4 linked regions of the Homo sapiens genome follow. The protein of the gene in region 4 interacts with the protein of the main gene of each other region in a pairwise test. Each region holds a gene or a part of one and is shown on either strand. Other genes may lie near its edges.

Region 1 (7,528 bases), on a different chromosome or scaffold from region 4:
GTGCGGGACCCTGCTTCCCGAGAAAATCCCCGACCCCACTCCACTCCTTGGAGAGCCACCTACAGCTCCCAAAGAGGCCCGGCTCAAGCCCCAGGCCTCGCGTCCCTAGGCTTCTTGAGTTCGGAAAAAGGTCCTACACCGGCTTCGGTCATAAGAAGCAAAAGCCTAGGAAGCCCTTGGATTGTTCCCAATTCCAGTAAACTTCTGCCCCCGCCACGACCCTGAAGACTGTCCACAGGCTTCCTCTCCTTTCACCCTCCTCTGTTCGCTGTACACTCTCTCCCTCGACCTGCCCATCTCTATTTCCAAGCAGAGGCCCCAGAACCACCCGCTCAGGACCAAAGACCCTCTGCTGAGGGGCGGGGAGGTGACCCAGCTTCCTGCAAACTCCCGACTTTTGCCGGAGCCGTGGGCGAAGCGGCCATCAATCGGGTCACCTTTGTACCACCCGGACTTCGCCGGCCCTGGAGGCTTTGCTGCCATATGGGCCGCTGAACCTAATCAACTTCGCACAGGTCCTGGAGGGGTGAGGACCGGCCTTGGGGCCGCGGGGAAAGAGTTTAGGTCCCAACACAAACACTCGTTTTGGTATTATAAAGACATTTATTTAATCTATGAAAATAATGTACAATAAATACTTTCCCCTTTTCCTATTATTAAAGAATTTTAATAAATAATCTACAGTCTAAAACATAAAAAAGAGGAAAATAGGTCCCTCTAGTTATTTTTAAGAAAGTCCCCCTAGAGTTTAATTATTCCTGAGATTTCATTGGAAGGAGTCTACCAAACGGAATTTTTCTGTGTGAATTTTAAAAGATAACCGAGTGCCCAATATTTTAGAAGAAGAAGAAAGGGAGTGGATTAAACGCTAATTCAGTAATACCTGAATTTTAGCAAAACACATAAGTCTATGCGACTGAGGGTGGGAGAGGCTCGATTTTTCCAGTAGACGGCCAAGGAGCGCGGGGGTCGAAAGGACCGGGAGGAGGAAACAGGTTAGGGAAACTGCAGGTCGATGGCACAGAGCGTACTGGTGAAAAAATCCAGCTCTTCCTCGGAAAAAGGGACCGGGCTGTCGAGAGAACCCTGTAGGCTAGGGGAGAGGCCTCCGGATAGCTGGAGACAGGAGTCGGCCGCGAAGAAGTTGAGGTCGGGAAGGAAAGGTGAATCCTGGCGCCCCGAGAAGACGTCTTCTGGCAATGGCCCGGGCTCCAGCCCGCCGGCCCCGCGCAGCGCGCAGCCGGGACTCGACGCGCCTGCGCCCTCTAAGCGAACGGCTAAAGGCCGGGGGTCCGCGCTTAAGGCCCCCGGCACCACCTCCGGCGGGTGACAGCAGGCTTCCCACGCCGCCCGCGAGGCGGAGGGGCCGCCCGGGCTGGCCGCGGGTTCCTCGGCAGGGTCGCAGATGTCCTCCAGGGCTCCCGGGCAGGCAGGCTCCCCATCCGGCGGCTCTCGGTGCTGCGTCTGCCGCTTGTGCTTCATGCGCCGGTTCTGAAACCAGACTTTGACCTGCCTTTCGGTGAGGTCCAGCAAGGCCGCGATCTCGACGCGGCGTGGCCGGCACAGGTACTTATTAAAGTGGAATTCCTTCTCCAGTTCCAGCAGCTGCGTGTTGGTGTAAGCCGTGCGCAGCCTGCGCGCCCCGCCGCCACCAGCCTCCGGCAGTCCCAGGCCATCTGCAGGGAAAACAGGCTCGGCGTCATAGCGGGCCGTGTACTCAGCCCAACCTCAGTTCGGACTACCCCATCCTCCAAAACCAGTATCACCTCTCCCCTTCCTCGCCACCCCACCCCCGCCCCCACCCCAAAGCCGCTCGCTTTACTGCTTTTGGGTTTTCTTCTCTCCCTCTCTAGTCTACAGCCCCGGCCCGGGTCAGGGCAAAGCATTCAGAGCCGCCCACGGGCCACGCAGGGGGCGGAGAGCGGCTCCCTTCGGCGCCGGAACCTCAGATCCCCCTCCCAAGCCCTCCCAGTGGACCCCTCAATTCGGAACTTTCCAACTCAACCGGAGCGAGGGTCAGAAAGATTGTTCTTCACCCCTCTTCCTCCCTAGCTCTGAATTCTTCCTCTTCTCCTAGAGTTGGGGCAGAAAGGACCGAATCTTTTCTGCTTCTAGGGTCTATCCCAGCAACAACATACTCATTCCCCTACACAGATACGGGTGAAAACCTCAATCAAATCATTTTCTTCTAGCAGAAAAAAAGGCGTTTCCCCAACCAGCTTCCAAAATCAGCCATAGGGAGAGAAAGAGAGAGAGAGACAGAAAAAAAAAAAGACGCTGTTAGCGGCCAGGCCTGAACCCCAGTGGGATATTCTACTTCCCCATCCCAGGAATGGAGGGGGTAAGGAACCCCAACAGGCTCGCCACCATTTTTTTTAAACCTCCTTCCACTGCTTTTTCTCCCCCTCTTCTAGCTGCCCCTCACCCCACCCCCACCACGCTTACCGACCTGCAGGCGATCCGACCCCGGAGGCCGGAACGGCGGAGGCGGCCGGAGAAGGAGACGTGGCGGATTGGCTGGGTTTCTTGGCGGATTTCTTCTCTTTCATCCAAGGGAACTCGGGGGCCGGGGGGGCAGCGGGGAGTGGCGGCGGCGGTGGCGGCGGCAGAGCAGGCCCATCTTCGGCTCGCTTTTGGCTCCTGGGTCTCTGAAGGGTGGAGGCGCCGGGCTGGAGGCTGGGGAAGGTTTGCTCGAAAGGAGGAGGAGGAGGAATTAATGTCGACTCCTTGATTGATGAAGTTTGAAATGTCTCCAAGACAGCGGGGAAGGAAGTCAGACACTCGGCGAGCGACGGCTGGCTGTTTATAAACCCAATCTCCCTCTCAAATTCAAAATTCATGGCTTTCAATGGTGGGGGAGGGGGCTGCTGGGGGGGGCGTCAGGAGGGAGGATCGGAAGGGACCCCCCTCCTGCACCCCCCCCGATTTATGTAATGGAGCGATTTTGGGAGGGGGAGATTTCGGTCTCTCTTTTTTTTAATTTTGGGCCTTTATAATTGTATATTGCTGATAAATACAAGCGTATGGGGACTCTCTCTATTAAACCCAGGACTCCAGCGAAATTACAGGGAATTCGTGGTCACGGGACCGGCCTCCGCCAATCGCTCGTCTGGGCCTGGTGGAAAACAGAGAGCATTATTTGGTTTAATTGATTCAAAAACACCAGAGGACCACGACCAGGACACCATGAGCCCCCATTCCTACACCAGTGCCTCACATGCTCTCTCCCCAATGCCTCCGTTTCTCCAGAAAAGCTAGAGGAACCTTTTCCTCATCCCCTTCGAAGGTTAGAAGGTTTCAGAAGCCTGGAAAAGAAGAGACTCTAAGGGAGAAACCTTCCTCTTTTCCAAGTATTTTAATAGAGTAAATTAAGGCCTTCTTTACGTGGCCAGCAGCATCCCCTTCCCTTCTCCCCTTCCCCAGGAAAAGATGAGTGAGGATCTCCGCGTTGGAGGAAGAGGGAGTCGAAAGAGGCTTCCACTCTTTGAAAAAGGTCAGTATTAAGGTGAAAATAAGAAAGAGATTTACAATCATCACACCACTATCCCTGTTACCCTCCAAAAACAACAGTTAAATCTTGGGAAATGGACAGGAACTCCCAGGCAGACACATAGGAGTGAGATGGAGCATAAGGGGCATTTTTGGGCCTCTGGCCTCCATCGCTGTATGGTCTGGGTTCTCTTCTCTGCCCAGTGTTTGCAGCACTGCCTCTGCCCCTTATGTACCCCTGCTTTCCTCACTTTCAGGCTTCCATGCTTCTCTGTGACATCCCCCAAAAACAGGCAGAGTCTAAGATGTGCATGTACCCACTCAAGCCTCAAGCTTGTATCTGTATCCATATCCAGGGACATGAACAAGAACTGAGGTAGCCATTGGTTTAACTTAGAGCACTCTCAAAGTTCAGATCAGCGTTATGTGTGTGCATGAGTGTGGTGGGGAGATTTTCCCCTAGGACAAAGAGACTTTCCCTCCCATTTTTGCCATTGTGCTAGTTAAAAAAGAAAAAAGAAAAAAAAAAAAAAAAGAATCCCTGACAAGGAAGAATTCCCTGAAGATGGTAGGGGTGGAAATAATGACCACTGAGATGATATTCCATTTCTGGCTGCTGGGGGAAAATGTTTTTAAAATTTATTTTATTTTGAGGAGACCAAGATAGTCTGAAGTTTAGAGTGTTGTAATTTACTATGGGGAGAGGGCACAAGACTCTGAGCCCCAAGCAATTGGTGGGAAACTAGGCCTCAAAGCAGAAAATGAAAAGTCGATCTGGGGGAAGATTTTTAAATAAGTGGGTCAGACGGATGGAGAGGAGATGAGGCGATCAATCTTAGCCCCCTGACAGCTCCCTCCGATTGCATCAAAGAATTTGGCTCTTTGGGAAAGCAGAGCGAACAGCCAAAATTTCACATCCCTTAAAAAGGCCTGGGGGTGGGGGTGGGGGTGCAAAAGAGAAGGGTGATTCTGGGAGAGCTGGGAAACAGATGGGAAATGGGGACAGAGGGAAAGCGCTAAGTTGGGTGGAAAGTTTGCCTGGAGAACTCCCATGGCTTTGGCCTCCCCTCCCCCTCCTCTCTCTCTGCTGCCCAGCCAGGAGGAGAAGGCTGGTTAGCAGAGAAATGGCAACTGAGCCCGGAGCTGGAACTAGAAACTTTCTGTCAGTGTAACATCTGCGTGAGTACTTAAAAAGAAGGACAGAGAAGTCTGAGTAGAAGCATGAGGGTGGGGGAGAGGAGGATGGAGAAAGGGGAGTTGGAGGTGGGGGCTGCAGGGACCGAGGAGGCATGCTCTGGAGGGCTCAGAACAGAGAGAGCTGCTCTGACCTGGGCAAAGTGGCCAGCGACAGTAGTGTGCAACTAGGCTCCAAAGAAAACAATTTTTGCCATTTAGAGGTGTGGATGGGGGTGGGCATAGAATAATCCAAATAGTAGCTGTCTGGAAGTCATGCAGGGAGGCCTGAGAGTGGGTTCTCCCTCTGGCCACCCCCTTGAACACCTCTGAAAGTTTAGCAACAGCTTCTGTAGCTGGCTGAAGGATCCAGAGCTTATCTCAGGCAACTCGGGCAGACTGTCCCTGCAGGAAATACAGCTCTCTCTAACCCTCACTGACAGATTTTATGGCCAGATTAGCAAACAGCGGAAAACTTGGGTGTTAAAAGGGGCCCAGAGAACCCTCCTTTTCAGAGACATCCCTCCCCCGCCCCCCTGTCCTGCTGTGAATTTAACAGCACGGATATTTTACCCACGTCTTTGGCTGCTTTAGCTGAGCGCCTGGAATCTTCCAAAGAGAAGGATAGGGAACACCAAGCCAAGTTGGTTCTTATTTTTCTTGTTTGCAATTCCAGCTTCGAGCCAAAGCTCTGTTTTTCAAACTTAAGCTAAATTCTCTTTCTTGGCCTCTTTCCTGCTAGATAAATAACAACCCAACCCAGCCCCAGAGCCAAACATGGTGCTTCATCTAGTTATATCATTCAGAAAATGTTATTCAAGGAAGAAGAGAGAAAGAGAAAGAAAGAAAAACCCTTGAGCGTTATTTGATCCCAATCAAACTTTGCACGCTCTTATGCCTTTAAATTATAGCCTGACCCAATGCTAAATTGCTTGCTGCTTGGATGAGTCCAGTTAAAATCCTACTTGGTGGTGGGGAAGGGGGAGGGCGTAGAGTTCAGGTTGCTTTTTTATTGTTATTTATTGTTGCATAAAGACTATAATTACTAACCTTGGACTGCCAGGATGCAACATAAAAATGAAAATCAGCCCTCTCTTTAAGGCAGGGCCTGGAACGATTCTCACTCCCCCAACATCACTACCACCAAATATATGCTCCTAATTAAGCAATGCGGGCACATCGCTTACAATTAGAATTATGCAGCTCTTCAGCAAGCAGCCATCGCTTCTCTTTCAACGAATTAGCTCCATATTTCAGCCGCCCTGTCTTCTCGCTCTTATCGGCTCCAGCGACTCGGCGGTGACATTTCATCTTTGACAGACCTTCTCTATTTTCACTCCAATGTGATAAAACTTTTATGGAACCACAACTAAGAAATGAAGTTTTCCCAAGGATGATGGAAACAGAGCCGCACATTAGCCTGGGGACCGTTTTATTTACGCTTGGATCCAACAGCTTCTCCCACCCTCCTCTCCCCTTTCTCTGGCAGGGGAAATCGAACGTGCTTCCCCTCCCTCCGCCTCGAGTTTTATTTAGTGATTTAATTTTACTTAGTTTTAAAGTTTGACCTGAGAAGTCTAGGCCTCAGTTTTGTTTTTTTTTTTTTTTTAGATTAATCATTTTTCTTTGTTTTCATTTTAGACCCAATGGTGGTTGGGCTTCGGGTCACGTGACACCTTCTTTGTGGCTCCGGAAGAGGATTGTGAAGTTTAGGTTTCGTGGAAGAAACCGTAATCGGCCAGATTTTCTTGGTGGTGGTGGGAAGGGGTGGGGGGTGGGGGGTGCATGGACGCTGTGGCCAAAGGAGCTAACAGACGAAAGGTCAATGAATGAAAAACCTAGAGGCATACAGGCCAAACAGAAAAACCTACAGAGAGCATCCAAGAGTCCCCCGTTACCTCCCAACTTGCTACTTAAACCACAGCTGAAGAAGTTGGCAAAATGTTACAGGCTCTTATGAGTGAGAAAATGGTATTTAAACTTAAGACATATCAAGGGGGAGACAGGAACCTGGGCAGTGGACAAAAAGGCCAGGGAAGGGTCTTCAGTGTCCTTGTCCTTGTCCTTCTTCCCTTGGGGGAAATTTGGCAGTCAGCAGCCTTGCTCTGCTATCTAAATTGGACCACCAGGACAAGATAAAATTGATAACAGAAAGTTTATTCAAGAATTGTTTGACAGACAACCCTTTTAGGTAAGGAAAAAAGTAACTACTGAAGAACAAAGAAAGTTCCAAGAGGGAATTAACTCTAGTTCTACAAATTCAGGACTATACAGTGACGATTAGGAGCTGAGTTCATGCCTTTTAGAACTAATTACAATTGTTCGTAAGTACGAGTTTAACATAAATCTACAGCTCTTTTCTAGAGTACAATAGTAACTAAAATAGCTGGTTTTACATGACAGGAAACACAATGTCCTTTGTAACAGGTAAATACTAAAAAAGTACAATTTTTTCCTTTTTTTCCCTCATATAAATACATAATGTAGGGGGATAAATAATACAAAAAAGAAAATATTTTAACAGGCTATAACCAATAAATATATATGAAAATGTTCACTAGAACACACGCTTTTTTGAGCAATGCTGGACTTCTGCAGGCCCAGACATCTCTCACAGTTGTTTTTACATCCATTAAAATGTAAATTCTAAGTGCAACAAAAGTGTCCTGTCAGGAGGCTGAGCAAGGCACACAGGCCCTGCCCAGCCCCTGCCTGGGACAGTTTGTTCAAATATACCCTGTTTTCACGTTAAGTCAAGAGAGCAACAGAAGAAAAGTATAGAACCTCGTGTCACCAACTGCTTTCTGTGGAGAGGGGGATGGAGCTGGAGCTGAGATGGAGGCAGCAGAATGGGCAAACCTTCAGT
Region 2 (7,432 bases), on a different chromosome or scaffold from region 4:
GGAGGAGACTGGCTGCGCTGCAGCCGTGGCCCCGACTCTGGCCTGGTGCCCCTGGCCTACGTGACATTGACCCCAACTCCAAGTCCAACCCCTGGAAGCAGCCAAAACTGAGGCCCTGTGCATGCTGGTGGCCTCAGGGACCCTCATAACCCCCAGACTCAGAGCCCGAGAGCCCTTCCCAAGCCATTGGCTTGGCTGCAGAGTAGACTGAGAGCTGGGGCCACGTATCCCTGTGCTGGCACCTGCTCCCTGTGCTCAGTATTAATTACGCCCCCTTAACTGTCCCAGTGACCTTGTCCAGACCTCCACCCAGGAGAGGGATGGGACACAGCACTGGGCTGCCAGGATTCCCCTGGCCCGTCTGGGCCAACCCTTCCATGGGTGAAGACAAGCAAGTCCCCCTGGAGGCGGGTGGCCCAGAAAGCCATCTACAGGGTTCCCTAGGCCAGGTGGAGATGAGGATGGGTAACAGTATTGGGGCCAGATCCCTAAGCCCCCCAGCTGTAAATAGGCTGTGGCCAGTGCCTGGTCATCAGAAGAGGGAGGAGGAGCCCAGGCGTCTGTTTATGTATTTATTTATTTATTTATTATACCTATTAATAAAAAAGGTGCTCAGCCTCCAAACCATTTTCTCTTTGTGTTCCCCCACCCTCCCACCCTCCCACCCACCTCTCTCCCTTCCAAAAGGATGGCTGGGATAGGATGAAAAGGGAAGGGAACTTGATGTCCAGTGGCCTAAGCCAAGAGCTGCTTCTGGAAGGTGCTGAGGCCCAGAGCATCATGGGTGAGATGGCCAAATGTGTGGCCAAACTGGAACTTATACCCTGTGTGGCCAAGAGAGTCTGTCACATGTAGCAAGTGGCATGGCAAAGCCATTTAATTCTCAGCCAGTTGGCTAGACCTCCAAACAGCCCTCTAAAATCTGGCCCTAATTCCCCACTGTGGGTAGCTACCTCGGTTTCCTTTTCTGCCTGATAATAAAGCTGAACCACATGATCTGAGCCCTCCCATATCTATTAGTTTCAACCCCCACAAACCACCCAACCCACCCCATACCCATACAAACAAACATTCCAGTCCCCAAAGCCTCCCCGGGGGCTCTTCTCACCTGGCACGTAGCCCCCATAGTTAGGTAAAAGACCCAGGTTCTGAGGGTATGTTCTGGGAAGTGGGGGGAGATGTTTGGGGTCCTGGGCACTGCCTGGTGAGTGCTTCTGCCCAAATTCCTGCAGTGCCTGGTTGGTGAGCACAGGAAAGCTGGAGCCGAAGAGGAAGCGGGCGCAGGGCACATAGCCAGTGAAGCCTGAGGATGGGGACACTGAGCCAAGGCATCCTGGGGCCTCCCCACGCCTCTGATCCTGACCCCCCAGCTCTCACCTGACATGAAGAACTTCCGAGGGTCCCTGTCATCCATGGAGTAGGGAGAAGCCTGTGAGAGAAGCCCCTGTGCTGTCACACAATCTCCCAAGGAGGTGGAGCTGACAATCAAGTGCACATCCCCTGAACCCACAGCCACACTACTCATGCTGCCCCCACTGCCCGGACACACAGTAAGACCCCCACTCCCACACCTCTGCACTCCCCACCAGCTTCTTGGTCTCACTTGTTCCACCACCTCCAGTGTCGGCTCCTCCAGCTGCCCCTCCGGCTCTGGCACCTGGTCCTTCTCTGTGTCCTTTCTTCCCTTGGCCTCCTTTGGTAGCTCTTCACTCCCTTGCTTTTCATGCAAGTGAGTAAAGTCACTCAGAGCCTCGGCCCAGACCTGGCTGCAGTTCTTGGCAAAGATGAACTGTGCCCGGGGTACAAAACCTGGGCAGGCAGGGACAAGGAAGACTCGTTAGTGTTTGGAACACATGCTCCTGGGAGGGGCACCTGTGCATACCTGCGTACAAACCTGTGTACCCAGGGATCATGCTGGAGCTGAGCCTTTCTTGCCCACGCCTGACAGGTAGACTCTCCCTGGGAACCTCAGGAGATCTTGGAGGCCGAATGGGAGGCAGAAGTGTGCGGTGGACAGGGGGCCAGGCTAGGCCAGGAGGGCCTCGAAGTAGCTGACCAGTCACCTGCCCATAGGTCTGGCCCACGCTGAACCGAAGTAGTGGGCAGTGTCCAGTGTACCTGCAGCACAGACTCTCCCACTCACCAGAATCGCCCTGCCCCGCCATCCCCAGAGGCAGAAGCGGAGACCTCTGAAGCCCTGATCTTTCTGGACTCAGCAGTGTATATATTTGGAGCAGGCATTTCTAAGTTCTCTGCCTGGGCTTTCGATCCTTCCTCTGCTGTTACCCTGTTCCCATGGAGAGAACAACACAAAGCTTTGGGGCAGACCCGGTGTCTCACTAGTCCCTTGCTTCTCCTTTTCCATCCACCACCATAGAGACCTCAGCCTCCCAAACCAACCTGTCCGCTTGGCCCCATGCTCTAAGCAGCTTAATTCCTCCACCCTATACCCCTACTCCCAGCAGCAAGCGGGGAGCGCTAAGTGGGAGTCTTACCCTGGGATATAATGAGGGTTCTGAGGGTTGAGCCCTGGTATGAAGGTGCTGGCCACAGCCATGGGGAGCCGGGCATTTCCTTTTGTTTGCCTTTGAGCCAAGGCTCTGGTCTGTGTGTACCGTGTCCAGGGCTGTGGGGCTAGAGGAAGGAGGCGGGGCTAAGGGAGGAGAGAAGGGAGGGGGCACTCGTGTGAGGACAGCCAGGGCGAAGGCCGGCAGAACTGTAGAGCAGAGGCTAGCAGGTCTGTCTGTCCAGGACAAAGGTGGTCCTGCTCGTGGGGCAGGGCCCGAACCGAAGGAAGCCCTGAGGTGGGACGTGGGAGGTGGGACGTGGGAGGTGAGGGAGCAGAAACCATTCGGGCCACTGAGCTCTGTCTCAGCGACTTCCTTCCTGAGCGCCTGCCTGAGAGGTGGACACTGTGTTCCTCATGAGTCTTCATCAAAGGAGATGGGGGACCTGGAGAAAGGATCTTTGAGGGAAGCCAGGGCCCAGAGGGGAGGTGAAAGAGGACAGGTGATGGGGGAAAAAAAGGAACCTAGACACCTCTAGGGAGTAACATCGTTTATTTTCAATAATTTAACAAGAGTGGCTTACTGAATACCTGCTATAATCAGAGTCATCCATTCAACAAATGAGCCAGGCTCTGCCAGGCTCCGGCCACAGTGGCCGAGTGTGCACTCCATGGGAGCCAGAAAAGCTGTGGGGGTTGAGGGAAGGAAACAGGATAAAGTTGTTGTAGGTGTGGGCGGTAACACTAGGGAGCAAGTTAGAATTTGTTAAAAAAATAAAATAAAATAAAAAATTCGGATTCTAAGAGAAGAAAAAGCACAGACCAGGAAGATGAGATCTCAGAGGACGGGGAAACATGTTTAAAACCCAACTCTGGGCCGGGTGCAGCCACGCTCACATCAACGTACTGAGGAGGCTGAGGTGGGAGGATCACTTGGGTCCGGGAGTTTCAGTCCAAACTGGGCAACACAGCCAGACCCCACCTCAAAAAACAAAACAAAACAAAAAGTTCTGGGGCTGGGTCAGGGCCAGGCTGAGGGCTCAGGGCCCACGTTTCTGAGGCAGAGCTCTGCTCTTCTCCCCACCTCCAGTGACCATGCCTGCGCTGACCAAGGACGGCACTGACATCCCAGGGGAATTACATAAGAGCACTGGGCTCCAAGGCACACATTTCATGTTCCTCACTGTTCTGCCAAGGACAGCCTTAGAATGTGTCATTTAGAGTTGTGGGGACTTACCTCACAGCTGAGGAAATATGTTAGAGTGAGGATGGGAGCCGAGGGGCAAGCCCAGAATAGCAGCAGTGTGTCAAGCTTAACAACCAGACTTGGGATTCTGTGACAGACACTATCACAGCTTATACCTATTCCTGACCCCCATCTCCTTTCTTCCGAGGAGCCAGAAACTGCATCAGGGAGGCTTGGAGAGCCAGCCTGGAGGAATGAGCTGGATTAGTCTAAGCGTGGTCCCATGCTCCTTCCCCATGACCGCTTAGGCACGGGCTTCCAGCATTCTGGATAATATGAGGGGAAATCTGCTGGGGCAGGGGAGGGTCCTGGGAAAAGTTTCTTTGCTCTTAAAGAAAAGATTCACATCAAATTAGAGCAAGTGAGAGAGACAGAGATGCGCAAGACGAAACGATGTCCATTCCTGCCCCTAGACTTTTGGGGGATGTGAGGCTGGAATGCTGGCAGGCATGTGGAAGCCTTGTGGAAAGCTAACCTGAAGACAAGTCCTGGACACATCAAGGATGGATGGTAGAGGAGAAAGGCCAGGGTCCTGAGGGTAATGTAGAGCCATGGAATTAATCAGCCTTTTTATGTCAAATAGTAAATTTCATTATTAAGGCCACTTTAAGTTTTCTTTCACTTACAGCCAAAGGCATCATAACTTTAAAAAACAAAACAGCCAGGCACGGTGGCTCACACCCTTAATCCCAGCACTTTGGGAGGCCGAGGCAGGAGGATCACAAGGTCATGAGTTCGAGACCAGCCTGGCCAACATAGTGAAATCCTGTCTCTACTAAAAATACAAAAATTAGCCAAGCGTGGTGGTGGGCACCTGTAGTCCCAGCTACTCAGGAGGTTGAGGCAGGAGAATCACATGAACCCAGGAGGTGGAGCTTGCAGTGAGCTGAGATCGCACATTGCACTCCAGCTTGGGCAACAGAGTGAGACTCCGTCTCAAAAACAAAACAAAACAAAAAAACACCACTAGATCAAATCCTAGCTTCACCAGAGATATAGACTTTGTCCAAATTCATCTCATTGAGCCTCAGTTTTCTCATCTGTAAAATGGAAAAACTAATGTTACCATCTCATAGAGTAGGATATCAGCTAGCTGAGATGATACACAATGAGCAATGACCCCAGCGTCTAGCTTACGGTAAGTGCTAACTAAACAGCAATTCACGGCTAGCATTTGGCAGGAATGGGAGGAAGGAAAGGAGCTGGGAGCAGTCACAGATGTTAGAGGTTCAGGGGAAAGGTTCATGAAATTGAAAAAGGGAAAGGTTTGAATGGAAGTTGGGGTATAAATTAGGATGTAGGGACTAGAACACATTCTGCAGAAAAGACCATGGCAGTTAGAATCCGGGTATGCGTTAAAACACAAGTTAGGAAACAGATTAGGATTAGTCTTAGGTTTATGGCTTATGAAGAAACAGCTCTATCCAATTGGTAGAATGGCCTGTTACTATGATTGTTTCCATCTGAATAAAGAATATTTCTAGATCCCTGAAGGGTGTTCTAATCTGAGAAAGGAGTGACGGGGCCAGCTGAGGCACCACAGGAATGCTTGCTGCCTCTGTGCCTCCTTCCAGGGACAGACATCACAGAAACATGACCACAACTTGCTCTGATGGGAGCTGCCACACCCAGTGGCCAGTGTTGGATGTGGCAGTGGAGAGAAAATGTTTAACTGGAGACAGCGCCCCACTCAGTCCACACAGCCTGCTGGGTCCCCACAATGGCAGCCTATAGCCTTCTGTTCTGCCTTTGATTCTGACCAGGAACTGCTATAAAATTTCATACAGATCCCAAATCAATCATTTGATTGTATGTCAACCCTAGGCAAGCATAAATCCCCTCTGCAAGGATGAATAAAAGAAAATCACAGGACCTTTGAAAAAATTCCTGAAATCAACAGTCCACCAAAATTGAAACAAGAATTGAATAAACTCCAAAAGATTACATGCAACACAAAACCTTTTTTAGTTTGAAAAATACATGCAGATGCATAAAACTGCATAAAAAGGAAAGCAAGGGAATGATAAAAATGGGTTTCAAATGCTCACCTCAGATGGTGAGAAACAAAAGGGGTGGGAAAGGGGGAACCACATAGTTAGATGTATGTTATTGTCAAAGTTTCAGTTTTTGTTTGGGATGATGTTTTCAAAAATGCTTATAATGGGCCAGGTGCAGTGTCTCATGCCTGTAATCCCAACACCTGGGGAGGCCAAGGTGGGCAGATTACTTGAGGTCAGGAATTCGAGACCAGCCTGGCCAATATGGCAAAACCCCATCTCTACTAAACATACAAAAATTAGCCAGGTGTGGTGGCACACACCTGTAATCCCAGCTACTTGGGAGGCTGAGGCAGAAGAATCACTTGAACCAGGAGGCAGAGGTTGCAGTGAGCCGAGATCATGCCACTGCACTCCAGCCTGGGTGACAGAGCATGACTCTGTATCAAAAAAAAAAAAATGCTTATAATGCATACATTATAACAAAGTATGAACTAATGATGAGAATGTGCCAAACCAAAGATTATGACAATTGAAATCTATGCTTTTGAGGTCCAAAGAGGTGTGGTGGAGGGAATCCAAGTAGAAATGACAAGGAATCATGGTATTTGGAGGGATCGAAGGAAAGGAAATGGCCTGGTCTCTATTCTACCTTTTTCTACCTTTTTGGTTTTTTTCTTTTTTTGAGATAGGGTCTCACTCTGTCACCTAAGCTGGAGTGCAGTGGCATAATCTCAGCTCACTACAACCTTCGCTTCCTGGGCTCAAGTGATCCTCCCACCTCAGCCTCCAGAGTAGCTGGGACTACAGGTGCATGCCACCACACCCGGCTAATTTTTGTATTTTTTTTTTTTTATAGAGATAGGGTTTCACCATGTCCAAGCTGGTCTTGAACTCCTGGGTTAAAGCGATCCACCCTCCTCAGCCTCCCAAAGTGCTGGAATTACAGGCGTGAGCCACCGCACCTGGCCTGGATTTTTTATGTATATAACACTCCTCAAATCCACAAGGATCAATATTCATTTATTCAGCCTACTTATTAAATATTTCTACTAGGCAGTTGCCTTATAGATCAATACAGACAATGCCTGACCTCAGTGATCGAACCACTTTAAAGAAGAGACAGAGGTACAGAGAAAGGCAGAATAAAATAAATACCACAATGAAGATCTAAACAAAAACAACTGATCTTATAATAGGCCATGAAGAAAAATCTCAAAAATTCCAAGAAGCACAATAAACCACATTTCCTCACACAAACACAATTTTAAAATTTTAAAATAGGCTAAACAAACAACCAACCTAACACTTAGACATTTAAAAATACTCCCTTGAGCTGGGCGTGGTGGTGCATTCCTGTAATCCCAGCTGCTTGGGAAGCTGAGGCGGGAGGATGGCTTGAGCCCAGAAATTTGAAGCTGTAGGGCGGCGCTATGATCACATCTGTGAATAGCCACTGCACTCCAGCCCAGGCAACACAGTGAGACCCTGTCTCTTAAAGAAATAAAAATTAAAATTAAAAAAAAAACAAAAACACCTTAACCCTTGGGGCAAAGAAAAAATTCCAGTTATACACAATTATTTATAAATAAATGAGAATTCAATCAAAGATGAATTCAGAGGCAACTTTTAGCCTCAAACACATACTGGCCTCATGATTAAGAATATAGACTTGATCCTGCT
Region 3 (7,083 bases), on a different chromosome or scaffold from region 4:
AAAAACAAAAGCCTACGTAAGTACATACTAAGGAGATTGTTAGGAATCACTGATTTGAACAGTCAGGCTTGCCAAAATCATTGCTAAAATTAGTACTGATGATAGTTAATTACATATTACCACGACAAATGGTATTTTATAAGAAACTAGCATGTATATATGTATTAATTTAAATCTCCCTGACTAGACTATATTTTCTTATTCTAAGGTGGTGATTCTTAACTGGATTTTATGTAATTCTTTGAGAATAGGATGGAACTGCTGAACCCCATCTTTAGGGGAAAAAAAAAGCACATACATAGTTAACATTTAGGTTTTCTAGACTGGAATCTTGGCTTGACAATTTTCTATGTGACTTTAGGCAATTTCTTTACTTCTCTATGCTTTAGTCTCGTCATCTATGTAATGGGGAGATTAATAGTCTTTAACTTATTTGAGAATGAACTGAGTTAATATGAGTGAAGGGCTTAGAACTCTTACTTTCTGGCACACAGTGACCCAGAAATCTTTAATTCTCATGATGATGACAATCACTTGAAGATATTCACGGGTTCTATGAGGCTCACCCAAGGACCTCCAAGTCCCCGGTGACCCCGGGTATAGGAACACTGTCTACTCTTTCTTAAGACAGGAATCAGAGATGCTGCCCAAACCCAAGCAATATTATTCTAGAATAAATTTGGGCGGAAAACTTTAAAAGGTAGGTAATTTTGTCAATTCATTTGCTTAGAATTTTGTTAACAACTTTTAGATTTGCTCCAGGTAAAATTTGGATTATCTGGCCTGGTTGAATGTCAGTTGAGAACAAGGAACAAAACAAAGTATATTTTCCATATTTACAAATAGTTATTTGCAATGGGTCTTCTTTCACAGGTCTGGCATTTTACTATTCCAGCATCTGTCTTCAAAAATAATTTTAATACAATTAATTTTAGTTTACTTTAAGGTTTATCAAAGTATATCTAAGATTTATTATTGCTATATTTGATCCTTAAACAATATTCTACATAAGACTTGATAGGTATTAAGTCACCTCTTTTAAAAATTAGGCAAAGAAGCAATTTGCCCCAAATTATGCTGGGCTCCCAGATCATGTGGACCCTGTGACATTTTTCTACTCTGGTTTTTTTCAATCGGGATGGCAGGTAAGCTCTACCTGCAGACAATTCAAGGACACTTCATGAAAACTAGGTTTTTGGTGTAATAGTTCTTTACATACCTTGAGAATTCACTGTCCTAAAATTTAAAAATGCCTTGTTTTGAATGTGATTTTACATATAAACATTTTTTTCTTCAAAAATAATGCCAACATTTAACGGTATTCAGCTTTACATACCTCATTATTGTAAGAACAGATGAAATTCTGGTCTTCTTGGGTGTCTGGATCACACTCTCTTGCAAAAGTTTTTTTCTGTTCATTTTGTACACAGAGTTCCAAGCCTTGGGTAAGTGGTGTTTTAATGAAAGGAAGCAAGCAGTTAGGATCACGGAAGGATACTTCAGCAGCATGAGCCCTGGAAATTTCGTTAGTCTCCAACAGAGAGTCTGCAGAACATTTTTCCAAACCAAGGGACTCCTCAATTTCACGGAGCTCACAAGATTCTAACGTGCTATTTATAGACACATATTTTGCTGGGTTGCTGTGTTCTACAACCTTTCGGGAAGATCGTATGATTTTGTTCTGATTGCTGTAAAACAGAGCTACCCACATATGAAGTAAAAGCTTCACTTCTTCCACATTATCAGGCAAATCAGTATTCCAGGGCCTAAGAGTTTACAGAAAGAACACATGAAAATCATTGAAAATGGTTATTTTAGTTGATTACCTTATCATAAGCAAGTGCCTCCAATATTCCTTAGTTTTTGTTTTTATTTTTAAAATTTACAGATATGAAACATGAATGAGTAAATATGTAGTTGACTTAACAAATAATTATCCATCTAACCCACTCATTTTACAGAGACGGGAACTGAGAATCAGAACATGTAATTGCCTTCTTTCAAATCACAAAACCTGTATGGCAGAACCATGATCTGAACATGGGTAGCACGTGTCTTTTACACCATACAAATTCACTCTGGACACAGAATACTTATTATAGAAATGGTTTCGCCAATACCCAAATCCTCATCACCATGCTTTTGCTAAGTCTGGCTGATTCATTTATTTTCCATTTTTGTGTCTCTCTTCTAATAATTGAGAAAGTCTGAAGATAAAATATCTCTCTGGGCAATTCAACAGAACTATACTATTTTCAGACTACAGTTCTGCAAAATATCCTGAAACAGTAAGGGGAAATAGAAAACATTTCTGGCCACCTGGCAGGCAAAAGGATGGCAGATCGCTGGAGTACCATAAGTCAGGGGGGCTGCAGAGTTGGGCAATAGCTAAACAGGAAGTTCTAAGGAAATGACCCTTATGAGTATATATGAACAGGTGTATAGAAGAAAGCCTGACAGCTGTAGAGTCCATATAGTCAGATGTGAAACAGTTCATTAATAGGGAGCTGAATGTCAATTCATATAGCTAATGAATGCTTGCTAACAGTGATGGTTACCATTTATTACTACTACTGGCCAGTCACTGTGCATCTCAATATATGTAACCTCAGGACACAGCTACATAATTAAATGTTGGCCACAGACTGTCATCCACCATTGATATCACCTGAAAATTTGTTAGAAATGCAGAATGTCAGGCCTCTCCCAAGGAGAATGCATCAAAATCTGCAGTTCAGTGAAATCTCTAGATGAGCAGCACACACAATTAAGAAGCACTGTCCAGAAGCAAGAAACTTGCCCAGGATCACAGGAGGTAAGAAAGGGAAAGAACCCGGGTTCAAATCTAGGTTAGTCTACACTCCAAAGCCTGTGCTGTTCACCACTCTGTTATTACTGACTTGATTCCTTCTTAAGGGAGATCTATAGAACAATCTTATGTGAAACTGCTTACTCCTATCAATCTGACCAATTTACCAAGCTACAGTGATTTTTAAAATGTTTCTTCTGGAATTCAGTCTGTAAAGCATTATTTCTAAATCTCACACTATTTTACATTAAGATCTCATCTAAAAATTGAAATTCAAAAGCCACAAGGGCTTACGAGGGAGCATTGCAAAATGGAAAGCTATTCATTAGGCTAAAATTATCTTTAAAAACTTCTCCACATGAGCACAGGGGGAAAACCAGCCTGTTACTCTTAATTGCCAGGAAACATGTTTGCTTGATGTTATTATCAAATTACTGGTTTTAAACACAACACTTCTTTCTCCTTCTCCAGAGTTTGGCATAAGTTTCCCCATCTCACTACATTCATCTCAACAGAAAAGTTTCATCCATTTTCACTAAGTTTCACTCATACTCACCCATGTAATGCTCTTACTACAGTTTTCTCCAGTGGGTTGTTGGTATATTTGCTGTCTAAACTGAATGCATATTCTGTTTCACATTTGAAAGTGATCTTAACGGAGTCATCACAGCTAAGCACTATACGAGAGCAAGAAGATTTTTTCACACGGGCAGACGGTGGTCGATCCTTGGGCTTCACCACGGGGTCGTCAGGAGGCTTTTGCTGAAGCAAAAGGCCGGGCTGATGCCGAAATGGCATGACTTTCCCCACTGGGGTTGCTGCTTCAGGGCTTTTTGTCCCATTCCTGGGAAACAGAGGGCTTAGTATCTCTCTCTCCTGTAGATGTTTCTTTGAATGTTCTGTAAGGAGCAGGGCATATGAATGTTCCACAGAAACAGAAGAGCTTTGGCTTGCATCTGAAGATTCTAGCATTTCCTCAGTAAGTGCTGACTGGGCTTTAGCAGGGGCCTGACTACAAGGAACCAAGCTTTCTTCATCTTGGCTAACTGTTAAGTCTGATCCAGAATTACTCTTCCTATCAGAAGATGGGTTAGGTAGTAATTCACCTTTTTGAGTTTTAACTCCTCTATGATATTCATGGTCAGATGTACCTCGCAAAGAATTTTCTTTAGAGAGCAAAACATCATTTTGTGGCAATTCAGAGGAACAGTGAAGATTTCTAGCCTCAGATACTGGTGTGGAAGAAGTAGCAGAGCTTAATGCTAGATCGGCTAACATATTTAGGGCCTGGGAGTCATAGTTGACGATGGAGTTTTCAGGAAGATCATTGTGAGCCGCTGTGGTATTTTCTGGTTGAACACTATTTATGCTAATCCCATCTTCTTGACAACCTCTTGAAATTTCTGATTGAAGCTTTGAAGCAGTTTCTCCTTTGACTTCAGTATAAAAGAAAAAAAAAAGAGAGATGTTTGCTTGTCATAGAATTAACTCTCTGCCATATTACTATGATGGTTAATTCAACATGTCTGAGAAAAACTTATGTAACATATATTGCATATTAAAATTTTCTATTAGATTAAGGTCTCTTCCAACCCTCAGATAAAACTTATGTTATACATATTGCATATTAAAATTTTCTATTGGATTAAGGTCTCTTTCAACCCTCAGATTATAATGTGTTAAACCAGAGGGACAAGTCTTAAGGAATGTGTACATTAATTTAGAAAGAAATTATCCTTCAAAAACATATGAACTGATCTACACAGAAGACATACAGCTCAGCTCAAAAAATGTACAAACAAAAAAACCCAAAAAAGATGAGAGTCCTGCCCTTGGGAGCTTACAATCTAATAAGGACAGGAATGTAGAAGTTTCAAGTGTGTATGAGTTTGCTAACATACTTTCTCAGGAACCATTTCCCTGAACAAGCGATTTATTAGAGAAACTACCTAAGTTCAAATGATTTTAACTATATTGATCTTTAATTACATGATGTGATAGAAATAAAAAATTAGAAAAGTCCTAAGAGTATTCAGAATCATCAATTAATTCCATTACCTTTTAAAATTTTACTTTCATTACCAAAAACATTGACCTTTTACATTATCCAAGAAAGAGCAAATCTACTGACAATGTTCCCTTTTACAGATAATCAAATCTATCCATATGCCCTTAATCAGAACATTTACATTTGCCAGTGGTTTCCCTTGGTATTTTCAACGTATTCATTATTCCTTCCTAAATGCTGTTATTATGAAGGATAAACTTCACAACTCTGCTAGGCAATGATTCCCTGCTGCAGGTAGACAGATGACCAGAAAAGCCAACTATGTTCCTCTTTATCATAGTAGCAGGTCCAAAATGAATTAACAACCTGCCAGCCAAGGCCAATGAGTAACACATTTAAAGAGAAGACAGCTCCAGCCTATGATGTCATCAATTAGAACGACAAGGGCATGCACATACATGGGGAAAGGGTTAAACTGATCAACGACTGCCCAGTTTTTATTTAAAACAGCAAACTCAAAGGGGACAGGTGGATGAAAAGGACCCAAAGCAGATAATTGTCTTGTTAGTCCCACAGGTATACTGGAAACATAAAATTAATTTTGTGATCTGATGCTAATTTCATTCTTTGTTAATATTATGGCCTCCATCTACTTATCCCTTACACAAAATATTACTTACCAGTAAGGCCTAATATAAAAGATACTGTATTAAAATAAAGAAAAATGGTAGTTTAACATATTATAGTCTCACATAAATCACCCAGTTATTAACGTGTTACAGGTTCCCAATTAAAAAAACACCACCCATAATTTCTATTTAAGACATACATAAGACAATGCCAAAGGAACTACATTAAAAAAAAGTTCAGTGAATAAAAAGGACAGAAAATCATGTTTCATTAACAAAAGGACTGTCTGACTTCAAAATTATCATTTGATTCTAATTTAAATCAGTAATTTGCAAACTGAGGTCAATGTGGCTATGTTTCATCTGCCTTCTTAAACGTTGATATTTTAAGTATAAGAAGTAAAATGATTAACATAGGTGCTTAAGAAAAAAATTCAGAGATTTAAATGTAGTCATTCAAAAATGTTAACTTGGAATGTGGCTGCACAATACCTACAGACATTTGCAATACAAATCAGCCTGTATTTGAACACACATTTTGAAACTTTAAATTTTCTGGGCTCACTTTTCTGCCAGTATGCAATTATATACCTCCTCGCATTAATCAATTTGTCAATAAACATCTGAAGCCAATTCAGTACAAAGAATGCAAATGACACTGCTAGGAACACAAGATGTTACCTATTCTCATGTTTACAAATTGGAAAGATTGGACCAAGACATGTCAGATGAATTGAAAACAGTATGAATTAAATTATAGAATGTTCTCAAATATCCCAAAGAAGTGAGAGATTAGTTACAGTCACAACATGAGAAAACGCCTCCCTGTGGGGATAAATCTAGCTGCAGGCCCCTGAAGGGCAGAGGTTGCCTGGGGGAGGCACAGAGGGCCGCAGGGGAAGGAGCACGGTGGCAACAGCAGAGGCACAACGCAGAGAGGGGAGGTACAGCCACACCATAAACTCCCGAGAGGGACAAGCAGAAGAGCTCAAATCTGGTATGGAAGCCAAAACTGCAGCATATGGGTTTTTGAATGACATGATGAGCTTTTAAAAAAATCTTCAGTCATAAAACAATCTGAAAAAACTTAAAGAATCTCAGGGTATGCTTAAGTTGAAAAAAAAAACAAAAAAACTAAAAAAAACAAACCTGGCTGGGCGTGGTGGCTCACACCTGTAATCCCAGCACTTTGGGAGGCCGAGGCAGGCAGAGCATGAGGTCAAGAGGTCAAGAAGTTGAGACTATCCTGGCCAAAATGGTTAAACCCCATCTCTACTAAAAATACAAAAATTAGCCAGGCGTGGTGGCATGCACCTGTAGTCCTAGCTACTCGGGAGACTGAGGCAGGAAAACTGCTTGAACCTGGGAGGCAGAGGTTGCAGTGAGCCGAGATCGTGCTACTGCACTCCAGCCTGGTGACAGAGTGAGATTCTATCTCAAAACAAAACAAAACAAAACAACAATCCAATTTCTTTCTCTGAATTCTCACTCTCTGTGAGATAGTAACATCTAGTAATAGATGAGGGAGAAAGTAGAATCAGGAAAACCAGACAGAAAACTCATAGAAAGATAGGAGAGAATGAAGTCTCTCCGTTAAACAAAACAAAAAAAATACACACACACCACAAAAAAATCAA
Region 4 (7,083 bases):
GATCTGTGCATTGTTCTGGGCCCTGGAGCAGCCTCAGCCACATCAGAACTTGGCAGGTGTGCCCACCCCTCACCTGGCATCAATCTCCTTCCTCTGTCTTCCTGAACATGGCCAAGGCCTCCGCCAGCACACCATCAGGGTCTAGGATTTTGACCTGGAGGGAAATACCAAGAAGTTGGTTTGGAGAGCATGGAGGACCCAGGCTGCCAGCCTTGACTGGCGCTGCCTGCCGTGTGGGGTGCTGCCAGCCTCATCAGGAGCCACCTCCCTTGCTAGGGATGCCCTGACTGAAAACAAAACCTTGTCTGTTCCCTGTCTGGGCTTGGCTGGGCCTGGCAGATCTGGCCTGGGCATGGCTGGGGATGCTGGCTTCTGTCTCTGTCTGGGTGTGGCCACAGGGCCCTGGTGAGGGCTGCCCACCTCAGGAATGGGGAACTGAGTGGGCTCAGGGGCCTCGTCACGGCCAAAGTCGATCATCGTCCCGCATTTGGCCATATTGTCCACCCAGAAGCCTTCAAACAGCTGGCCGTGGTCCAGATGGAAGAAACGCCCCGCCCCGTTCTTCATGCCTCTCTCCCAGCAGCCCTCGTAGCGGTTCCCGTTCTCTGGGGGAAAGGACAGGGAGGTGTGGTGCAGGGTACACCAAACTAAGCTAGACCCCCAGGGGTCGCTCTTCCAGAGCTCAGTGCAAATCCTAACACATTGGGAGGCCAAGATGGGAGGCTCATAAGCCCAGGAGATCAAGACCAGCCTGAGCAACATAGTGAGACCACATCTCTGCAAAAAAAAAAATTTTTTTAATTAGCTGGGCATAGTGGTGTGCACCTATAGTCCCAGCTACTCTGGAGGCTGAGGTGGGAGGATGGCTTGAGCTCAAGAAGTTGAGGCTGCAGTGAGCTGAGATTGCCCCACAGCACTCCAGCCTGAGTGACAACCTCCGCCTCCCGAGTTCAAGTGATTCTCCTGCCTCAGCCTCCTGAGTAGCTGGGATTACAGGTGTATACCACCACATGCAGCTACTTTTTGTATTTTTAGTAGAGACAGGGTTTCTCCACGTTGGCCAGGCTGATCTCAAACTCCTGACCTCATGATCCGCCCGCCTCTGCCTCCCAAAGTGCTGGGATTACAGGCATGAGCCACTGCGCCTGGCTTTTTTTTTAAAAATTGAGATATAAGTTCATATAACATAAGTTGGCCATTTTGAAGTGTATAGTTCAGTGGCATTTAGTACATTCACAATGCTGTGCAACCATTACCTCTATCTAGTTTCAAAACGTTTTAATCACCCGAAAAGGAAACCCTGTGCCCATTAAGCAGCCATTCCCCACACCCACTAATGTCACCACCCCCATAGTCCTAGGCAACCATTAGTCTACTTTCTGTCTCTGTGGAGGTGCGTGTCCTAAAAATTTCATATAAATAGCATCATATATATGTGACCTTTTGTGACTGAGGGGAGAGATAGGGTGCTCTTCCTCTCTTGTCCCACATTGACACAAGGGTCAGTGTGGGACAAGAGTGTGGGGTGTGGCCTGTCTCTGTGGGACCAAATGGGCGTGGCCAGCTCGCTGCCGGGGGCGTGGTCGGGTGGGCGGGGCCGGCGGGGGTGGGGCACTCACTCAGGCGCAGCATGCCCTCCCCGTTGGGCTTGTCGTTCTCCCACTGTCCCTCGTAGATGTCGCCGTTGCTGTAATACATGCGGCCCCACCCGCTGCGCTGGCTGCCACACCAGTCACCCTCATAATACTCCTTGGGTCCGAAAAACTGGATCCCATAACCCTGAAAGTACGAAGATGCTACTACTCAGGGCGCCCCCCAACACCACCAGGAAAGCCCACCGTCTTCCCAGGCACCCCTAGAGCCACACACCCCAGCTTCTTCCTTCTTCCTCAGCCCTACGTCCAAGCGGAGGGTCGTGTCTTAGCGGAGTATCCTGTCTTTTTTGTTTGTTTGTTTGTTTTTAGACAGAGATCCACTCTGTCACCCAGGCTGGAGTGCAGTGATGTGATCTCGGCTCACTGTAACCTCCGTCCCCCGGGTTCAAGTGATTCTCCTGCCTCAGCCTCCCGAGAAGCTGGGATTACAAACACGCATCACCACGCCCTGCTAATTTTTGTATTTTTAGGAGAGACAGGGTTTCACCATGTTGGCCAGGCTGGTCTTGAACTCCTGACTTCAAGTGATCCGCCCGCCTCAGCCTCCCAAAGTGCTGGGATTACAGGTGTGAGCCATAGTGCCCACCGATAATGTCTTGAAGGATCTCCCCATGCTCTGTTTCTCTCTGTCCCTCTGCTGGCGCCTCCATGCAGCCAGTCATTAAACTCCCTCCTTACTGACCCACCCTCTCCTCTCTCATCCCCACCACACCATGCGCCATGCAGCCCCTACAGCGCCGGAGGACTCTTTAAATCGCCCATCTAGGCTGGGCGCTGTGGCTCACCGGCTCACTTTAGGAGGCTGAGGTGGGTGGATCACTTGAGGTCAGGAGTTTGAGACCAGCCTGGCCAACATGGTGAAACCCCATCTCTACCAAAAATACAAAAAATTAGCTGGGCGTGATGGCGGCGCCTGTGATCCCAGTTACTGGGGAGGCTGAGGCAGGAGAATCACTTGAACCTGGGAGATGGAGGTTGCAGTGAGCTGAGAATGCACGGTAGCCTAGGTGACAGGGTGAGACGCTATCTCAAAAAAAAAAAAAATCGCCCATCTGATCATGCTCGCCCCCCTCCCACTCTTATTTTGACCCAGAAAAATGAACATAAACACCATACTTAGCCTGGCGTGGTGGCTTACGCCTATAATCCCAGCACTTTGGGAGGCCGAGGCAGATGGATCACCTGAGGTCAGGAGTTTTAGACCAGCCTGACCAACGTGGCAAAACCCTGTCTCTATTAAAAATATAAAAAATTAGCTGAGTGTGGTGGTGGGCACCTGTAATACTAGCTACTTGGGAGGCTGAGGCAGAAGAATTGCTTGAACCCAGGAGTCGGAGGTTGCAGTGAGCCCAGATCGTGCCATTGCACTCCCACCTGGGCAACAGAGCAAGACTGTCTCAAAAAACAAACAAACAAACAAACAAAAAACACCACACTTAGGCTGGGCGCTGTGGCTCACGCTTGTAATCCCAGCACTTTGGGAGGCCAAGGCAGGCGGATCACAAGGTCAGGAGATCGAGACCATCCTGGCTAACATGGTGAAAACCCGTCTCTACTAAAAATACAAAAAAATTAGCTGGGTGTGGTGGTGGGTGCCCGTAGTCCCAGCTACTCGGGAGGCTGAGGCAGGAGAAGGCCGTGAACCAGGAGGCGGAGCTTGCAGTGAGCCAAGATCGCGCCACTGTACTCCAGCCTGGGCAACAGAGAAAGACTCCGTCTCAAAAAACAAAAAACACCACACTTAGTGTCCAACCACAGGGAAACAAGGTCTGTTTGCAGATCACACCCGAGGAGGTTGGGTTGAGAAGCCAAGTCTACTCCTCAAAATCCTGATTTCCCACATATCCCTGAGGGCCCCCGCAACTCTTCTCCTCACTCCTGTCCCAGGGCAGACACACTCTGCTGTTTTACATCTCGTTCCCTTTGCTATTTTTTTGCCTCCCATCTTTCTCCCTTTTTTTTCTTCCTGGCTAACTCCTAGCATCTTTTAGTGTCACCTCCTACAGGAAGCCTGCCCTGAATTCCCTCTTTTTGAGACAAGTCTTGCTCTGTTGTCCAGGCTGGAGTGTAGTGGCACCACCATAGCTCACTATAACCTCAGCCTCCTGAGATCAAGCAATCCTCCTGCCTCAGCCTTTTGAAAAGTTGGGACTACAGATGTGCACCACAACATCTAGCTAATTATTATTATTATATAGTTTTATTTATTTATTTATTTATTTTGAGATGGAGTCTCACTCTGTTGCCCAGGCTGAAGTGCAGTGGCGTGATCTCGGTTCACTGCCACCTCTGCCTCCTGGCTTCAAGCGATTCTAATGTCTCCGTCTCCCTAGCTGGGACTACAGGTACACACCACTATGCCCGGCTAATTTTTTTTGTGTTTTTTATTTAGTAGAGACGGGGGTTTCACCATGTTGGCCAGGCTAGTCTCGAACTCCTGACCTCAAGTGATACACCCCTGTCTGCCTCCCAAATTGCTGGGATTACAGGCGTGAGCCATTGTGCTTAGCCTTCTGTCCTGAATTCTCTAGGCTGGGCTTGATGACCTTCCTCTGGGCACCCTGTGAAAACATCCCTCCTAATACCATATTCTACGTAAATTGGTTATTCAGGGCTTTCTCTTCCTACTTGCCAATAAACAATTTGGGAGCAGAGAACATGAAACCCTGGGCTCTACCACTTGCTAGCTGTGTGACTCCAGGCAAGACTGAAACTGCCTTTGCAAAATTATGACTGAGACAGTGAAAGAGATTTAATTTAACTGACTCCATCTTGCTTCTAACCTCTAAGCTGTCCATGTCCATTCCTGGGCTTAAGCTGAACTAACTTTGGGAGAAACTTATAGTTTATAGTTTAAACAAAGACAGTAACAGCCCTTTCCCGAAGACCTCCTTCTTGCCTGGGGACTAGATTGCCTTTGTAGGATTAACATTAGCTACAAGATTATAAATTATGGTTTAGGAGTCATGCAGCTGGAAGCTACAAGATTCTGATCCTCACTAAACTGCTCCTAAGATCAATGCTTAAGATATTTTGCAGACCTTGCACTTGATGGATCAGCTGGCACTACCCAAATCAATAAACTGATTTATGTGATCTTGTGGCTCCCCACCTAGGAACTGACTCAGGGCAAGAAGACAGCTTTGACTCCCTGTGATTTTATCTCTGACCAATCAGCACGCCTGGCTTACTCTTTCCCCCACCCACCAAGTTATCCTTAAAAACTCTGCAGCCAGAATGTTCCGGGAGACTGATTTGAGTAATAATACAACCCAGGGCCAGGCGCGGTGGCTCATGCCCGTAATCTTAGCACTTTGGGAGGCCCAGGCTGGCGGATCACCTGAGGTCGGGAGTTCGAGACCAGCCTGGCCAATATGGAGAAACTCTGTCTCTACTAAAAATACAAAATTAGCAGTGTGTGGTACCACATGCCTGTAATCCCAGCTACTCGGGAGACTGAGGCAGGAGAATCGCTTGAACCCAGGAGGCGGAGGTTGCGGTGAGCCGAGATCACACCATTGCACTCCAGCGTGGCGACAAGAGCGAAACTCCATCTCAAAAAATAAATAAATTAATAATAATAATAATAAAACTCAGGTCTCCCACACAGCCAGTTCTGTGTTAATTACTCTTTCTCTATTGCAATTCCCGTCTTGATGAATCGGCTCTGTCTGGGGAGCAAGAAGACAGCTTTGACTCCCTATGATTTTATCTCTGACCAATCAGCACTCCTGGTTCACTGTCTTTCCCCCACCCACCAAGTTATCCTTAAAAACTCTGCTGCTGGAATGTTCGGGGAGACTGATTTGAGTAATAATACAACTCAAGGCCAGGCACCGGCAAGGTGAACCCCTTGGGCAGTTACAAGACACCTCATCTCTTCGAGCTTGTTTGCTTATCAATAAAATGGGCATGAAGATGATGATGATGATGAGCTGTTGCTGTGAGAGTTAACTGAATATTAAATGTGTTTCAGGCCGGGCGCGGTGGCTCACGCCTGTAATCCCAGCACTTTGGAAGGCCGAGGCGGGCGGATCACGAGGTCAGGGGATGGAGACCATCCTGGCTAACACGGTGAAACCCCGTCTTTACTGAAAATACAAAAAATTAGCCGGGCGTGGTGGCGGGCGCCTGTAGTCCCAGCAACCTGGGAAGCTGAGGCAGGAGAATGGCGTGAACCCGGGAGGCGGAGCTCGCAGTGAGCCAAGATGGCGCCACTGCACTCCAGCCTGGGCGGCAGGATGAGACTCCCTCTCAAAAAAAAAAAAAAAAAAAAAAGTTTTAAATATGTGTTTCAGGCTCACAGTAGCAGTTGCTCAGTTGCAATACTGTTTATTATTAGTGTCTCTGGGACTGATGGTGAGGATTCCTCCACACTTGTGGGAGTAGATGGAGGGAACCTGTGCCCAGCTTGGGTGTTTCCGGGCTGAGCACGCGCCTCTGGCTGGCTTCGGCCCCCCGGGACCCTCCTCTCCTGTCCCCTGCTCTCTTGCTCCCACTTTTCCTACCTCCCTTTTATTCAGGCCCAGCAGAAAGGGGATTCTCAGAAAGTGATACCTGGGGAAAAGAAAGCCAGGAAACGAGGGGGAAAAGGGTGGAGGCGACTTCGTCCCCACAAGCCTGGCTGGCTCCTCGCAACCGCAGGGTTTCGTGGGCTCCTCCCTGGCCTTCTGTTGCTTCCTGTTTCCTGGGTTTTGTTCTGAGAAACTTTGCAATTCCCCCACCCCTTCCTTCTCCCACGAGCAGCACAACCCTGTCCTCCTCCCTGTAGACCTCCCCTCTCTTTTCTCCCAGGCCTCTCTCGGCTTCCCCTAAACACACACGCGCGCACACACACACACACACACACACACACACACCCCGGCTGGCAGGCCTGCTCACCGATTTCTTATCACCTTTCCACCAGCCTGAGTAGACTCTCCTGCACTTTCCTGTCTGTTGGTCAGGAAGGCTGAGGGTGCCGTAGCCGTCTCGCTTCCCAAACTTCCAGTCCCCCTCATAGATGGCTCCTTTCTTCTTCCAGACCTGTGTTCCTTTCCCTGGTGACACACAGATGGGCAATGCTGCAGACATGGCCGCCGGGGGGTGGGGGTGGTGTGCCTGCCTGAGCCTCAGGGGCCCCCAACTAGACGAATCTAGAGAGCTGGGACAGGCTCTGCGCATCATCCTAGACACCAAGTACCCAGGAGAAGGCCAGGAAAGTTCCATTTCTTTCTTTCTTTCTTTCTTTCTTTTTTTTTTTTGAGGCAGTGTCTCACTCTGTCGCCCAGGCTGGAGTGCAGTGGCGCGATCTCAGCTCACTGCAACCTCTGCCTCCCGGGTTCAGGAGATACTCCTGCCTCAGCCTCCAGAGTAGCTAGGACTACAGGTGTGCGCCAACACACTTAGCTAATTTTGTGTTTTAGTAAAGATGGGGTTCCATGTTGGC

Evidence for each region.
Region 1: the proteins of MORN3 (region 4) and HOXB2 interact in binary tests that used the Homo sapiens proteins (3 or more experiments, as listed by UniProt).
Region 2: the proteins of MORN3 (region 4) and CIMIP2B interact in binary tests that used the Homo sapiens proteins (3 or more experiments, as listed by UniProt).
Region 3: the proteins of MORN3 (region 4) and TASOR2 interact in binary tests that used the Homo sapiens proteins (3 or more experiments, as listed by UniProt).

Annotation. Positions count from the first base shown.
Region 1 is NC_000017.11:48,542,072-48,549,599, forward strand, and holds HOXB2 (homeobox protein Hox-B2), read right to left. Parts: upstream 3,039-7,528; 5' UTR 2,841-3,038; coding exon 2,450-2,840; exon of another isoform or gene 1,887-2,449; coding exon of another isoform or gene 1,823-1,886; intron 1,677-1,822; coding exon 997-1,676; 3' UTR 584-996; downstream 1-583. UniProt on the Homo sapiens protein: Sequence-specific transcription factor which is part of a developmental regulatory system that provides cells with specific positional identities on the anterior-posterior axis.
Region 2 is NC_000009.12:35,561,272-35,568,703, forward strand, and holds CIMIP2B (ciliary microtubule inner protein 2B), read right to left. Parts: upstream 2,608-7,432; 5' UTR 2,558-2,607; coding exon 2,496-2,557; intron 2,288-2,495; exon of another isoform or gene 2,166-2,287; coding exon of another isoform or gene 2,119-2,165; coding exon 1,895-2,118; intron 1,810-1,894; coding exon 1,604-1,809; coding exon of another isoform or gene 1,572-1,603; intron 1,430-1,571; coding exon 1,378-1,429; intron 1,304-1,377; coding exon 1,109-1,303; intron 825-1,108; coding exon 736-824; coding exon of another isoform or gene 597-735; 3' UTR 560-596; downstream 1-559. Other genes in the region: AP-4 complex accessory subunit RUSC2, read left to right, coding at 1-111. UniProt on the Homo sapiens protein: Microtubule inner protein (MIP) part of the dynein-decorated doublet microtubules (DMTs) in cilia axoneme, which is required for motile cilia beating.
Region 3 is NC_000010.11:5,736,780-5,743,862, reverse strand, and holds part of TASOR2 (protein TASOR 2), read right to left. Parts: intron 4,246-7,083; coding exon 3,366-4,245; intron 1,767-3,365; coding exon 1,337-1,766; intron 1-1,336.
Region 4 is NC_000012.12:121,652,655-121,659,737, forward strand, and holds part of MORN3 (MORN repeat-containing protein 3), read right to left. Parts: intron 6,695-7,083; coding exon 6,537-6,694; intron 1,780-6,536; coding exon 1,620-1,779; intron 606-1,619; coding exon 421-605; intron 155-420; coding exon 80-154; 3' UTR 74-79; intron 1-73. UniProt on the Homo sapiens protein: Assembles a suppression complex (suppresome) by tethering SIRT1 and MDM2 to regulate composite modifications of p53/TP53.